3 separate regions of the Homo sapiens genome follow, and regions 2 and 3 are each linked to region 1. Evidence: fine-mapped expression QTL. A gene starts in region 1. Each other region holds a variant in brackets. All regions are shown on one strand. Distances are between the middles of the regions.

Region 1 (4,285 bases):
CTGGAAAGTAAAACGGAAGTGGCTATTTGGTCCATGCAGCAGCACCCAGAACAACCCTTAAATATAAGACGTACTCAGTAAAGACAAAACTGAAAAAAGAAGTTGGGGCTTAACTAAGCAGCAAACTTTCCCCAGTTTTAATCAAACAGATAATCACTGGCTCTTCTGTAGAAGGCAGAAGTTTCTTCCCTGGTACTTCCCCAACAGAGTAGAACTGTCAGCACAGTTCCTATTTTGTGAGTAGAATAAGTTCTAATTTTTTTTATTCTGTGAAAAGTGTAGCCATTGAAAATTTTCAATAGGCATATGAAAGCAGTGTTTAAGGAAAATTAATATGGCCATGATATGTGATTCAGGTTAAAGGGAGAATGATGTCAGTGAGTATGGCTGGAACTCAGGTGCATCATCCAGGTGAGAGAAAATGAAAGCCATTAGGGGAGTTTTCAGTGAGGAAGAGAACAGAGGTACATAATAAAATAAAACAATTTAAAAGTTACATAGTTTAAACTGATAGAACTTGATTATCAATAAGATGAAAAAGAAAGGAAAATATACCAGATTTTACTCTATGATTTATAATCAGAGGAACTCAGAGGGAACATTGTTAGTGACAGAAATGGTGATGTAGCTGAAAAGACAAGTTTTTGGAGGAGATAATTCTTTCCTTCATCTCCTCCGATGTGAATGAGAAACAGTGGTTGGTTTTTTACCATCTTCCTGAAAATAAAAGGCTGTATCTCAAAAAACAAAAAACAAAAAACAAAAAAAAAAAGGAAGGAAGACAAATGCCCAGAAGTGTTAAGACACATGGCCAGCAGAGACTTTTCCAAAGTCCTTCACTTGGCTGGACTAGGTTCTAGGCCTTAGAGCTGACTGTGGGTGGATGACAGGGAAAGCAGAATGACACGGTTTGAGAAAAGAAAGGGCAGGCACACCAAGTCACTGCTCTGCTACTCAGTTGGAACATGCCTGGATTTCGTGCTTATTACATAGAGTATTTCCGTGCCTGCGATGCAATCACTATCACCTCTACCTCCACACACGTGAACCTGGTCTCCTGACTTTAGTTAGGAAAGAAGAGAACAATGCAACTCACAAGAGGAGAAGGATGAGGACAAGTGTTTAAAATAATTTTTCAAAGCTGTTGGCACATTTTCTTTATGATTATTGTCTGGTGAACCTAGTGAAAATAAATACTGTATTGAGATAATCTGTGCCGAGCGGATTTATTTCCTTTTGTTTTGTCGGAGAAAGGAGGACAGGTACTGAGTTGCACCCTGGTTTCCGTACTTCACGGTACTGTTTTATCTAAGTTTTAAAAAACACCTCAAATTCAACTAGCTGTGGCATTTTTCTCAGTGCTCTTATCACTATGCCCAATTTAAATTTTTTAAATAAAACAGGAAAAGATGCTAAACACATTACAAGTTCTTAAAATTATTCCTTAATATTTATTTTGGGTCAATTTAAAAAGGCTTGTGAATCCATAGCCTTGAGTTAATATTTAGCCCAGGTGTTAGTTAAATTCTAACTTCAACAGTCACCCGCACTTGTAAATCTTGCCCTACGATGGACTACGTTTCCCAAGAGCACCCCCCGAGTTAATCACATGAAGCGCATTCTGGGAATTGTAGTCTCGGATGAGCCTCTTTCTCCCAGTCTTGGACTCACGCGCTGATTCCGGTTGAACCCAGGGGCTACCAATTAGCTGGGGCCATGTCCGTGAGTCGTGGTCCAACCGAGAAAGCTGGTGTGGGAGCTTCGTACAATGATTGGCCAATGAATGACCCCCGGGGCGGAGCAATGGGGGTGGGCGGGGAGACCATGGTGATTGGACCAGAAGCCCGCGACGGCGGGCGGGGATTGGCTGCGCGCTGGGTCAGGGAAGCCTGGGAAGGGGCGGAGGAAGGAGACTAGAGCAGGAAGAGCAGCGGCGAGGCGGCGGTGGTGGCTGAGTCCGTGGTGGCAGAGGCGAAGGCGACAGCTCTAGGGGTTGGCACCGGCCCCGAGAGGAGGATGCGGGTCCGGATAGGGCTGACGCTGCTGCTGTGTGCGGTGCTGCTGAGCTTGGCCTCGGCGTCCTCGGGTCAGTATCCGCCCCCTCGGGCTGAAGGCCCAGAGCCTCCGCCCCCCAGCCTCTACAGCCGGCGGGGCCGTGGGGACTCCAGGCTCGGGACCCCGTTCTCCCTGGGCACATCTCGCACTGGGCTGTCACTCGCTCTTTGGCTTTGCTTGGCCTGCGCCAAAGGGGCTATTTAGGAAGGTGGAGTGGGGTGGAAAAAGAAGGGGCGGTCACCCTGCCCACACCTCTCTCCCACGTAACAAACTTTGCGCGACTCTTCTCACGAACGCGGAATTGACTCCAAAGGAATGAATCCTGATACAGGAGCCCGAGTGGAGCTTCCTCGACCCTGGGGTAGAGGAAGGGTCTGGTCTAGAACTCTGGGCTTGGGAATTGTAAGTTAAATAATTGACAAACCTGGAGCTGTCACTTTGGGGCAGAGGAGGATCCATCCAGACCAGGATGTTGACAGTAGTTTGCTTAACACCTGAGATGGTCCCTGGTCTGTCTGTTTAAAAACGAAGACTTTTGATCTCATCGTAGCCACTTTTTACTTTTTTGAAACCTTCCTGAGAAAGCGGTGACCTGTCACAGTGTTTCTGAGTTGCCCCATGTTTGTTGACAGTCATTTTATGATGTTTGGGAAAATCTTGGTTCTTATAAGATGCGTTTTATATAGATACAGAAATTTGTGTGCTTTTGAATTGATTTTCCAGTTAGCTAATGTTTATTCTGGTTCTGCTTTTTTCCCCCTTTTTTAATGTTTTAATCTGCCTACATTTGAAAATTTCCATTTTGAGAGTGTTCATGAAAACTTCGTGTTTCTAAGTGTTGATAAATAAAAATTAGTACAGTAAAACTTTGGAATTTTAATCAGTTTCAGTTAACAGGACAGGTGTTCTGTGGCTTGACGTTTTGGGGGGACAACACGGAGTATAAATGTCAGCTTTTTCTTTTTTTAATAAATGTCAGCTTTTTTTTAACAGAAAATTTCCCAGATGGTTATCTGAATCCCCAAATTACCTGTCCTAGTTGTAAATCAATGCCATAACGTCATTCTGCTTCTAAAATAAGAGGCTTAAACCTAAATTCTATCCATGATGTGGTTTGAGATACCATTTCAAAAGCACCAACCCTATGCTAATTACTTTACTGCCAACATCATTCTTTCAGGTCCACTCCCCTCCCTCCAGTAGTAGTGATGGTTTGAGTTAATGACCAGATCTTTAGACTATACTTAACTCTCGAAGCACTTTTAGCAGTTATTTAATATTTGATCAAAAAGCATGAAATGAAGCTGTTGAGCTTAATGAGTAGAGTACCTGCTGGACCATGGACCTCCTGCATCAGAATTCCTCTTATGGGTTTGTTAAACATTGGGTTTTAGGTCTGGAACAGCTCAGGTATACATAGATTAACAATCTCCATGAGGGATTCTTCACACTAAAGAGAACTACAGTAATGAAAGAGCACGGTGTGTATCCCTCTGAATTTAATTGGCAGAGTTTAAAGAAAATTAAAGCATAGGAATTGTGCTGTCTGTCTTTGACTGCATTTTATATACTTAGAGCTCCATGCCAGTGGAAAAGATATTTGAAGATCAACAGTTGGGGCTTTCAGGATGTTGTAATAAAAGACTTAACACTGATATATTAAATCCTTGGGTTGTATTGATGTAGGTAGAGGACTGTATTCAAGAAATGTCTGCTCTGATTTCCATCATAGTTAAAGCTGTGCCACAACATTTCAATGGTAAAGGCAGAAGCCTTAGCCAGAACTAAAACAATGTAGATGTGCATGCTAAAAGGTAATAAAGGCAGTGCTGTGCTCACATGAAGTTCATATATCATAAAACACCTGTGCGGGCCCAGCTCATACCTGTAATCCCAGCACTTTGGGAGGCTGAAGTGGAAGGATCACTTGAGCCCAGGAGTTCAAGACCAACCTGGGCAACATGGCGAAACCCCATCTCTACGTAACTCCAGGTGTGATGGTGCACACGTGTAGTTCCAGCTACTCGGGAGGCTGAGGTGGCAGGATGGAGTGAGCCCCAGGAGGTTGAGGCTGCACTGAGCTGTGATTATGCCACTGCACTCCAGCCTGGACAATAGAGCGAGACCCTGTCTCAAAAAAAAAGAAAAAAAAACAACCCTGTGTTAAATAAAGTTGTGTAAATTAAGCTATGGATTTTCAATTGTGATTTTCATTCACAGGGTTTCGGCC
Region 2 (4,000 bases), 46 kb after region 1:
TTGTAAGCAAAGCTGAACCTCTTTCTGTTGTCTGAGTTTGTCTCACTACCACCCCATACCCGACAGACACCATCTCAACTGTCTTAGAACAGCTCTGTGTCTGGCACTTTCTCCCAGAGGTATGGAGTTGTTTCTTGTTCTTCCATCTCTGCTCTCTACCCCACGTCCTCTAACCATCTCTCAGGACTTAAACATCTCCTTGCCTGCTTTTTTACTCAATCCTGACAAAATGCATAACTGCCTTCCATTGAGGAGGAGGAAAGCTTTCTGTTCTGCCCTTTACCCCTTCTAGCTACCACCTGTCTTCTCCCAGCCCTTCACTCAGAGTCAAACTAAGCTGCTGTCATTCACTCTTGAGTTCTTAGCAATCGAACTTCTGCTTCATGGAACTATACTCTCTGTACAGATCACCAGTAACCTCCTAAATGTCGGTCCAATTGACATTTTTTGGTTCTACCTCACTTGACCTCTCGCTTCCCTGGTGTTCTGTCTGTGTCTGGGTTTCCTTGGCCATTGCATCTCATCCTTCTGTGCAGCCTCCTCATGTTGGATGTCCCTGGATTCACGTTGCAGTTTCCTTCTCTATTTGATCTTTCCAAGTAATATGTGCTTTTAATTTGAGGCTGAAACTAAGAGCTAGGTTTAAGAGCTAGGTTTTTAATATCTATAGGTATTCTCTAACACAAAAGACAGTAATGTGTTCTCATTTTGCGGCCTTCTAGTCATTCTAGGACACTAAAATTCAGTAGTAACCTTTATTTTAACTTTTCTTCTTGGATACATATGACCTTTGAAGTATAATAGTCATAGTGTTTGGTAAGGTACACGGAATAAATGAATAAGGAGATAATTTTCTTTCTTTAATTTTAGGAAAATTGAGGTTTAAAAAGGGTTGATTGGTTAGCAGAGAAGATTGACTGTTTCTTAATTCCTGGTCTGATGTTCTACTAGTTTTTATGCTTTCTGAGAGCAGCATACAAATTGTTTCACAAAAACTCTATTTACTTTTCTTCACCACCTTAAATATTAATCCCCCTATGACTTAATGTATATTATTATCTATTATAAGAATTAGAAAGTGGTCTTTTTAATGGCTCTTTGGGAATATTTTTTTATATGCTTTGTTCATTTTTTTAAATAAATCTCTTAACTTTTGAGTATGTCTGCCTTTTGAGCTTTCTCATCATATGACATCTTTTTCTACAGAATTATGATCTAGCCCTTAAGTATTTCCAGAAAGCTGCTGAACAAGGCTGGGTGGATGGGCAGCTACAGCTTGGTTCCATGTACTATAGTAAGTAACACTGGAATTAATGATGGATACACCAAGATCTAAATTAAGCTGTTTTCTACTAGATGGCATTATGATGTGGAAATGGGTGCTATCAAATTCTGGCTGGTTAAATGTTCTCCCAGTTCAATGATTTGTACATCTTGTTTTTCATTGTAAATTATATTAATCTGTATCAGTGTGTTAGCTTGTATTAGATTCACATATTTACTCAGTAAGAATTCTTTCATTAGAGTTTTATTCTTCATATATAAGCCTTCTCTGATACTTAGCTAAATCTTAAGTCTATTATCTCGTGTGATTTTTTTTTTTCTTACAGATGGCATTGGAGTCAAGAGAGATTATAAACAGGCCTTGAAGTATTTTAATTTAGCTTCTCAGGGAGGCCATATCTTGGCTTTCTATAACCTAGCTCAGATGCATGCCAGTGGCACCGGCGTGATGCGATCATGTCACACTGCAGTGGAGGTAAGGTCTTTCCTACCAGCTTGTGTGTAGGGAGTTGATTTGCCCAGCAGGAAAGTCTGCGCTTTCAATTCTGGTTTTTTTGTATGTTTTCTTCTGTAGTTCTAGACTCAGCCTACCTAGCTTTGATATACTGAGGGAAGACCGAGGGGTCTGTGTGTAATTACCATACTTATTTATTCAGTGTCTCCCTATTACAATCAACTGTATAAGGGGAGATACTGGTGTCTGCAGTATCTCTAGCACCTAAGACAGTATCTGATAATAATCAGCATCAAAAAAATATATAAGCTGAGCACAATGGCACGTGCCTATAGTCCCAGCTACTTAGGAGGTTGAGGTGGATGAAGGCTTGAGCCCAGGAGTTTGAGACCAACCTGGACAACATAGAAAGAACCTATCTCTTAAAAAAAAAAAAAAAAGAAAGAAAGAAAAAGAAGTTGAATGAATGTTCCAAAAAGGAATGCTAATATCTCCTAATTGGAAATTGTCTC[T/C]TAGCTCTCTCTTAGACTTGGCACTTTAGAGTGACATTGATAAATGCTTAGCAAAGTTTCTAAATCTCTGTGCTTTAGTTTACTCACTTGTCAAATGGGGCTTTTAACAGGACTTACCTCCTAGGGTGGTTCCTCATGAATCTCATGGGAAGATTAAGAATGGTAATATACATAAATCATTACAACAGTGCCCGGGCAGAGTAAATGGTCATTTTTGTAGTACAATAATTGTGTACTGTTTTTTTTTTTTATAAACCTGTTGACTTCTAAAGAGTAAGTGAAAACTTTAAATAAGTATCTCAAACTTTTATGTCTGTTCAAGAAAGCTGCCAGAAATTGAAGGAGCAAGCTTAATAGTCATGTGTAACCAAAGTGCATAAGTGATTTTCTGGTATATCTTTCTTATTTTCTTCTACTGATATTTTTTTTCCCCACCTCACACAGTTGTTTAAGAATGTATGTGAACGAGGCCGTTGGTCTGAAAGGCTTATGACTGCCTATAACAGCTATAAAGATGGCGATTACAATGCTGCAGTGATCCAGTACCTCCTCCTGGCTGAACAGGGCTATGAAGTGGCACAAAGCAATGCAGCCTTTATTCTTGATCAGAGTAAGGTTCATTTTAGTCCTGCCTTAGGTTTAGAATGTACGAGTTCACACCAGTAAACTGTTTAATGTATTCAAAAAGAAAAGCTACTAGGAAACATTCTTTATTATTGTAACTGGAACTGAACACACAGGCTTAAGTTATTAATATTTTACTTTAGCCATCAAAGTTAGTTTTATAACGAGTTGACTGTAGAAATGGATTTGACATTCATTTTAAAATTAAGCACTTTGCATAAATGTATTTTTCAAAATACAGTGGATACAAAAATGCCATTTTCCCAACACTGTAGAAGAGTGACTCAGTAGTCTCATGACTGGTTCTATAGATACAACATGTTTCACAAAGTAGTGCCCTCTTGCATCCAGTGATTGCTTTGAACTCACTATTTTAGTTCAGTAATTAATTTCAGTATTTGTTTTAATTTTTATATCCTAATTCTTGTTTAACTTATGCTTCACCTATCCTTCCTACTTTGCAAATGAAAATTAAGTCTAGTGCCTTTTCTTAAATGCCTGATTTGTATTTCATTTCTTTTCCTGTAGGAGAAGCAAGCATTGTAGGTGAGAATGAAACTTATCCCAGAGCTTTGCTACATTGGAACAGGGCCGCCTCTCAAGGTAAGTGATTAATTCTAAGATAAGAGTTTCACCCAGGGACCTCCCTATGTTGTTTATCTCCCATGAACATTAAATCATGAAGCCGAGTACTGTGGCTCACGCCTGTAACCCTAGCACTTTCGGAAGCCAAGGCAGGAGGATCACTTGAGGTCAGGAGTTCGAAACCGAAACCAGCCTGGCCAGCATAGTAAAACCCTGTCTCTACTAAAAAAAAAAAAAACAAAAAAAATTAGCTGGGCATGGTGGCAGGCTCCTGTAATCCCAGCTACTCAGGAGGCTGAGGCAGGAGAATCGCTTGAACCTGGGAGGCAGAGGTTACAGTGAGCCAAGATTATGCCACTGCACTCCAGCCTGGGCGACAGAGCGAGACTCCTTCTCAAAACAATAAAATAATTAATTAAGCAGAGATACTGTGACTTAATTTGTTTGCATATTATTGGTATTTATTCTTAACAGAAGTTTCTAGAGCCAGAGTTTCTAAATTGGGTTGTAAAGTCTTTGTACTACACATTTCCATCAAGCT
Region 3 (4,299 bases), 59 kb after region 1:
TTCCTTGCCTGACATTTTAGTGATAATAATGGTTTCTATATTATTTTCATTAAGATTCGAGATATGTTCACCCAACTTGATATGGACCAGCTTTTGGGACCTGAGTGGGACCTTTACCTCATGACCATCATTGCGCTGCTGTTGGGAACAGTCATAGCTTACAGGCAAAGGCAGCACCAAGACATGCCTGCACCCAGGCCTCCAGGGCCACGGCCAGCTCCACCCCAGCAGGAGGGGCCACCAGAGCAGCAGCCACCACAGTAATAGGCACTGGGTCCAGCCTTGATCAGTGACAGCGAAGGAAGTTATCTGCTGGGAACACTTGCATTTGATTTAGGACCTTGGATCAGTGGTCACCTCCCAGAAGAGGCACGGCACAAGGAAGCATTGAATTCCTAAAGCTGCTTAGAATCTGATGCCTTTATTTTCAGGGATAAGTAACTCTTACCTAAACTGAGCTGAATGTTTGTTTCAGTGCCATATGGAATAACAACTTTCAGTGGCTTTTTTTTTTCTTTTCTGGAAACATATGTGAGACACTCAGAGTAATGTCTACTGTATCCAGCTATCTTTCTTGGATCCTTTTGGTCATTATTTCAGTGTGCATAAGTTCTTAATGTCAACCATCTTTAAGGTATTGTGCATCGACACTAAAAACTGATCAGTGTAAAAAGGAAAACCCAGTTGCAAGTTTAAACGTGTTCGAAAGTCTGAAAATAGAACTTGCCTTTTAAGTTAAAAAAAAAAAAAGCTATCTTGAAAATGTTTTGGAACTGCGATAACTGAGAAACTCTTACCAGTCCACATGCAATTAGACATATTCAGCATATTTGTTATTTTAAAAGGGAGGGTTGGGAGGTTTCTTATTGGTGATTGTCACACGGTATACCATACTCCTCTCCTTCAAAGAATGAAAGGCCTTGTTAAGGAGTTTTTTGTGAGCTTTACTTCTTTGGAATGGAATATACTTATGCAAAACCTTGTGAACTGACTCCTTGCACTAACGCGAGTTTGCCCCACCTACTCTGTAATTTGCTTGTTTGTTTTGAATATACAGAGCCTTGATCCAGAAGCCAGAGGATGGACTAAGTGGGAGAAATTAGAAAACAAAACGAACTCTGGTTGGGGTACTACGATCACAGACACAGACATACTTTTCCTAAAGTTGAAGCATTTGTTCCCAGGATTTATTTTACTTTGCATTTCTTTTTGCACAAAGAACACATCACCTTCCTGAATTCTTTAAATATGAAATATCATTGCCAGGGTATGGCTTACAGTGACTACTATTATAATACTAAAACTCAGAGAATCAAAGATGGATTAAACTCAGTGGTTGATGAAAGCCAAAACCTGTTTGTACTGTTCTATACTATTCAGGTATCTTTTTATTTCTGATAGTTTTATATTATAATAGAAAGCCAGCCACTGCTTAGCTATCATAGTCACCATTTTCTCACTGTTAACATTAGGAAAATCAAGGCTACTATGCTTCAGGATTGTCTGGTTAAATAGTATGGGAAAAAAACTGAAGAGTTTCACATAATTACACACGTGAAATAATTAAAGCTTAAACTGAATTTGTATTTCATTTTATTGTCAGATGGTGGTGTTCACCAGCCTGTATCTTGTCTGAGACTGCATTCGTATCTGAGCAGGTTTTCTATGCCTACTGATGTCAGTATGTTTATACTAACCTTCATGCTTTTTTCCCAGAATCCCTCATCTGCCAGAAAACTTGAAAAGTTTATTGCTTGTAGAGTTGTACTGCTTTGATTTTTGAAGTTGGGGTAGTAGTTAGAACTAGATTTAACTAGTCTATAATGAACATGAAGGCTTTTATATATGAAGTTGTATACCTTTTTGTGTTTAGAGAATTATGGGAAACCTGGTAAGCAAAACTTTCCTCCCAGATAATTGCTTCCAAATTCGAAGAGTTAGTCACCAAGAGAGCCATATGTATGAAAGCGTATCTGTGAAAGGTAGGAAACTTACCCCCCCTAAGTGTAATGTTGCTTTAGGCAACTCTTGTAAATAGTGAGACTTGTTTGGTCTCTTACATGTAGAGATTTGAGTGCAGTTGGTACAGTACTTTGGTGTCTCCACCACTGTCCCTTCTCCCCGCTTCAAAATAAGTGTAATCCACGGTAGCAGCCACACTTCCTTTAGAAGGAACTGTTATAATTTATTTAAAAGTTGAAAAACCACCCAAGATGACTACCAACTTTCACTTTTTTCTTCTGCCATCCACC[C/G]TCATTTTTCCTTTAGCAAGATTTTTATATCTAACTTTCCTTCCCTCCATTGAGTACGTGCTTTGAGAAAACATTTCTTAAAACAGTGTGTGCCACCTAAGGCTGGATGGGAAAGTGCAGTCTTGTTGTTCATATAAAAACACACTTCTTATTAGTTTACCACTTGCCTTTTTCTATTGTTAATGTTCTGAATTTCCTTTTCTTGGCTTGTTTCTACTTCATTTTACCCTGGGTCACTTGCTGCCAGCAGTTTGTGAATGGTGTCTTTCAAATAACTTAGTTCTTATGGCTTCACTTAAAGACTGTCTCAAAAATACTTTGCTCTCTTCTTCTTTTTTGTTCATGGGACATGGTACCTAAGCAAATAGGAGTTGGGTTTGGTTTTTCTCCTAAAATAATGCTCAATACTTACCTAATCAAATGGCATCCATTTGAATAAAATGACAATAACTAAAGCTAGTTAATGTCAGTGACATTAAACTAACTCCAGGATTCAGGAGTTTTAATGTTAGAATTTAGATTTAACAGATAGAGTGTGGCTTCATTTGTCCATGGTAGCCCATCTCTCCTAAGACCTTTTCTAGTCTGTCTTCCTGCCTTCGAACTTGATGACAGTAAAACCCTGTTTAGTATTCTCTTGTGCATTTGGTTTGTTGGTTAGCCGACTGTCTTGAAACTATTCATTTTGCTTCTAGTTTTATTTTACAGAGGTAGCATTGGTGGGTTTTTTTTTTTTTTTCTGTCTCTGTGTTTGAAGTTTCAGTTTCTGTTTTCTAGGTAAGGCTTATTTTTGATTAGCAGTCAATGGCAAAGAAAAAGTAAATCAAAGATGACTTCTTTTCAAAATGTATTGTTTAGCACTTAACTCAGATGAATTTATAAATTATTAATCTTGATACTAAGGATTTGTTACTTTTTTGCATATTAGGTTAATTTTTACCTTACATGTGAGAGTCTTACCACTAAGCCATTCTGTCTCTGTACTGTTGGGAAGTTTTGGAAACCCCTGCCAGTGATCTGGTGATGATCTGATGATTTATTTAAAGAGCCGTTGATGCCTCCAGGAAACTTAAGTATTTTATTAATATATATATAGGAATTTTTTTTTATTTTGCTTTGTCTTTCTCTCCCTTCTTTTATCCTCATGTTCATTCTTCAAACCAGTGTTTTGGAAGTATGCATGCAGGCCTATAAATGAAAAACACAATTCTTTATGTGTATAGCATGTGTATTAATGTCTAACTACATACGCAAAAACTTCCTTTACAGAGGTTCGGACTAACATTTCACATGCACATTTCAAAACAAGATGTGTCATGAAAACAGCCCCTTTACCTGCCAAGACAAGCAGGGCTATATTTCAGTGACAGCTGATATTTGTTTTGAAAGTGAATCTCATAATATATATATGTATTACACATTATTATGACTAGAAGTATGTAAGAAATGATCAGAACAAAAGAAAATTTCTATTTTCATGCAAATATTTTTCATCAGTCATCACTCTCAAATATAAATTAAAATATAACACTCCTGAATGCCTGAGGCACGATCTGGATTTTAAATGTGTGGTATTCATTGAAAAGAAGCTCTCCACCCACTTGGTATTTCAAGAAAATTTAAAACGATCCCAAGGAAAGATGATTTGTATGTTAAAGTGACTGCACAAGTAAAAGTCCAATGTTGTGTGCATGAAAAGGATTCCTTGGTTATGTGCAGGGAATCATCTCACATGCTGTTTTTCCTATTTGGTTTGAGAAACAGGCTGACACTATTCTCTTTGATTAGAAAATAAACTCATAAAACTCATAATGTTGATATAATCAAGATGTAACCACTATAAATATGTAGAAGAGGAAGTTTTAAAAGACCTTAAGCTGGCATTGTGAAGGAACACCATGGTAGACTCTTTTTGTAAATGTATTTTGTATTTAATGAAATGCAGTATAAAGGTTGGTGAAGTGTAATATAATTGTGTAAACAAATCCTGTTAATAGAGAGATGTACAGAATCGTTTTGTACTGTATCTTGAAACTTGTGAAATAAA

The links. PIP is the estimated chance that this variant, and not a neighbour inherited with it, causes the effect.
Region 2: its variant is the best candidate, but not a certain one, in a credible set for the expression of SEL1L in whole blood (INTERVAL, PIP 0.57).
Region 3: its variant is the best candidate, but not a certain one, in a credible set for the expression of SEL1L in whole blood (TOPMed, PIP 0.70).

The regions. Positions count from the first base shown.
Region 1 is chr14:81,531,476-81,535,760 of GRCh38, reverse strand. SEL1L (SEL1L adaptor subunit of SYVN1 ubiquitin ligase) reads left to right here and starts at 1,908. Exons shown (of 21, transcript NM_005065.6): 1 at 1,908-2,086. The coding sequence starts at 2,017. RefSeq lists a silencer at 1,785-1,904 and an enhancer at 1,621-2,120.
Region 2 is chr14:81,485,149-81,489,148 of GRCh38, reverse strand. SEL1L (SEL1L adaptor subunit of SYVN1 ubiquitin ligase) reads left to right here. Exons shown (of 21, transcript NM_005065.6): 15 at 1,207-1,294; 16 at 1,611-1,759; 17 at 2,695-2,860; 18 at 3,403-3,477. Among named protein-coding and RNA genes, the nearest start is that of LINC02308, 37 kb to the right of the region's middle. The variant T/C (reference allele first, on the strand shown) is at 2,251.
Region 3 is chr14:81,472,937-81,477,235 of GRCh38, reverse strand. SEL1L (SEL1L adaptor subunit of SYVN1 ubiquitin ligase) reads left to right here. Exons shown (of 21, transcript NM_005065.6): 21 at 55-4,299. The coding sequence ends at 264. Among named protein-coding and RNA genes, the nearest start is that of LINC02308, 25 kb to the right of the region's middle. The variant C/G (reference allele first, on the strand shown) is at 2,253.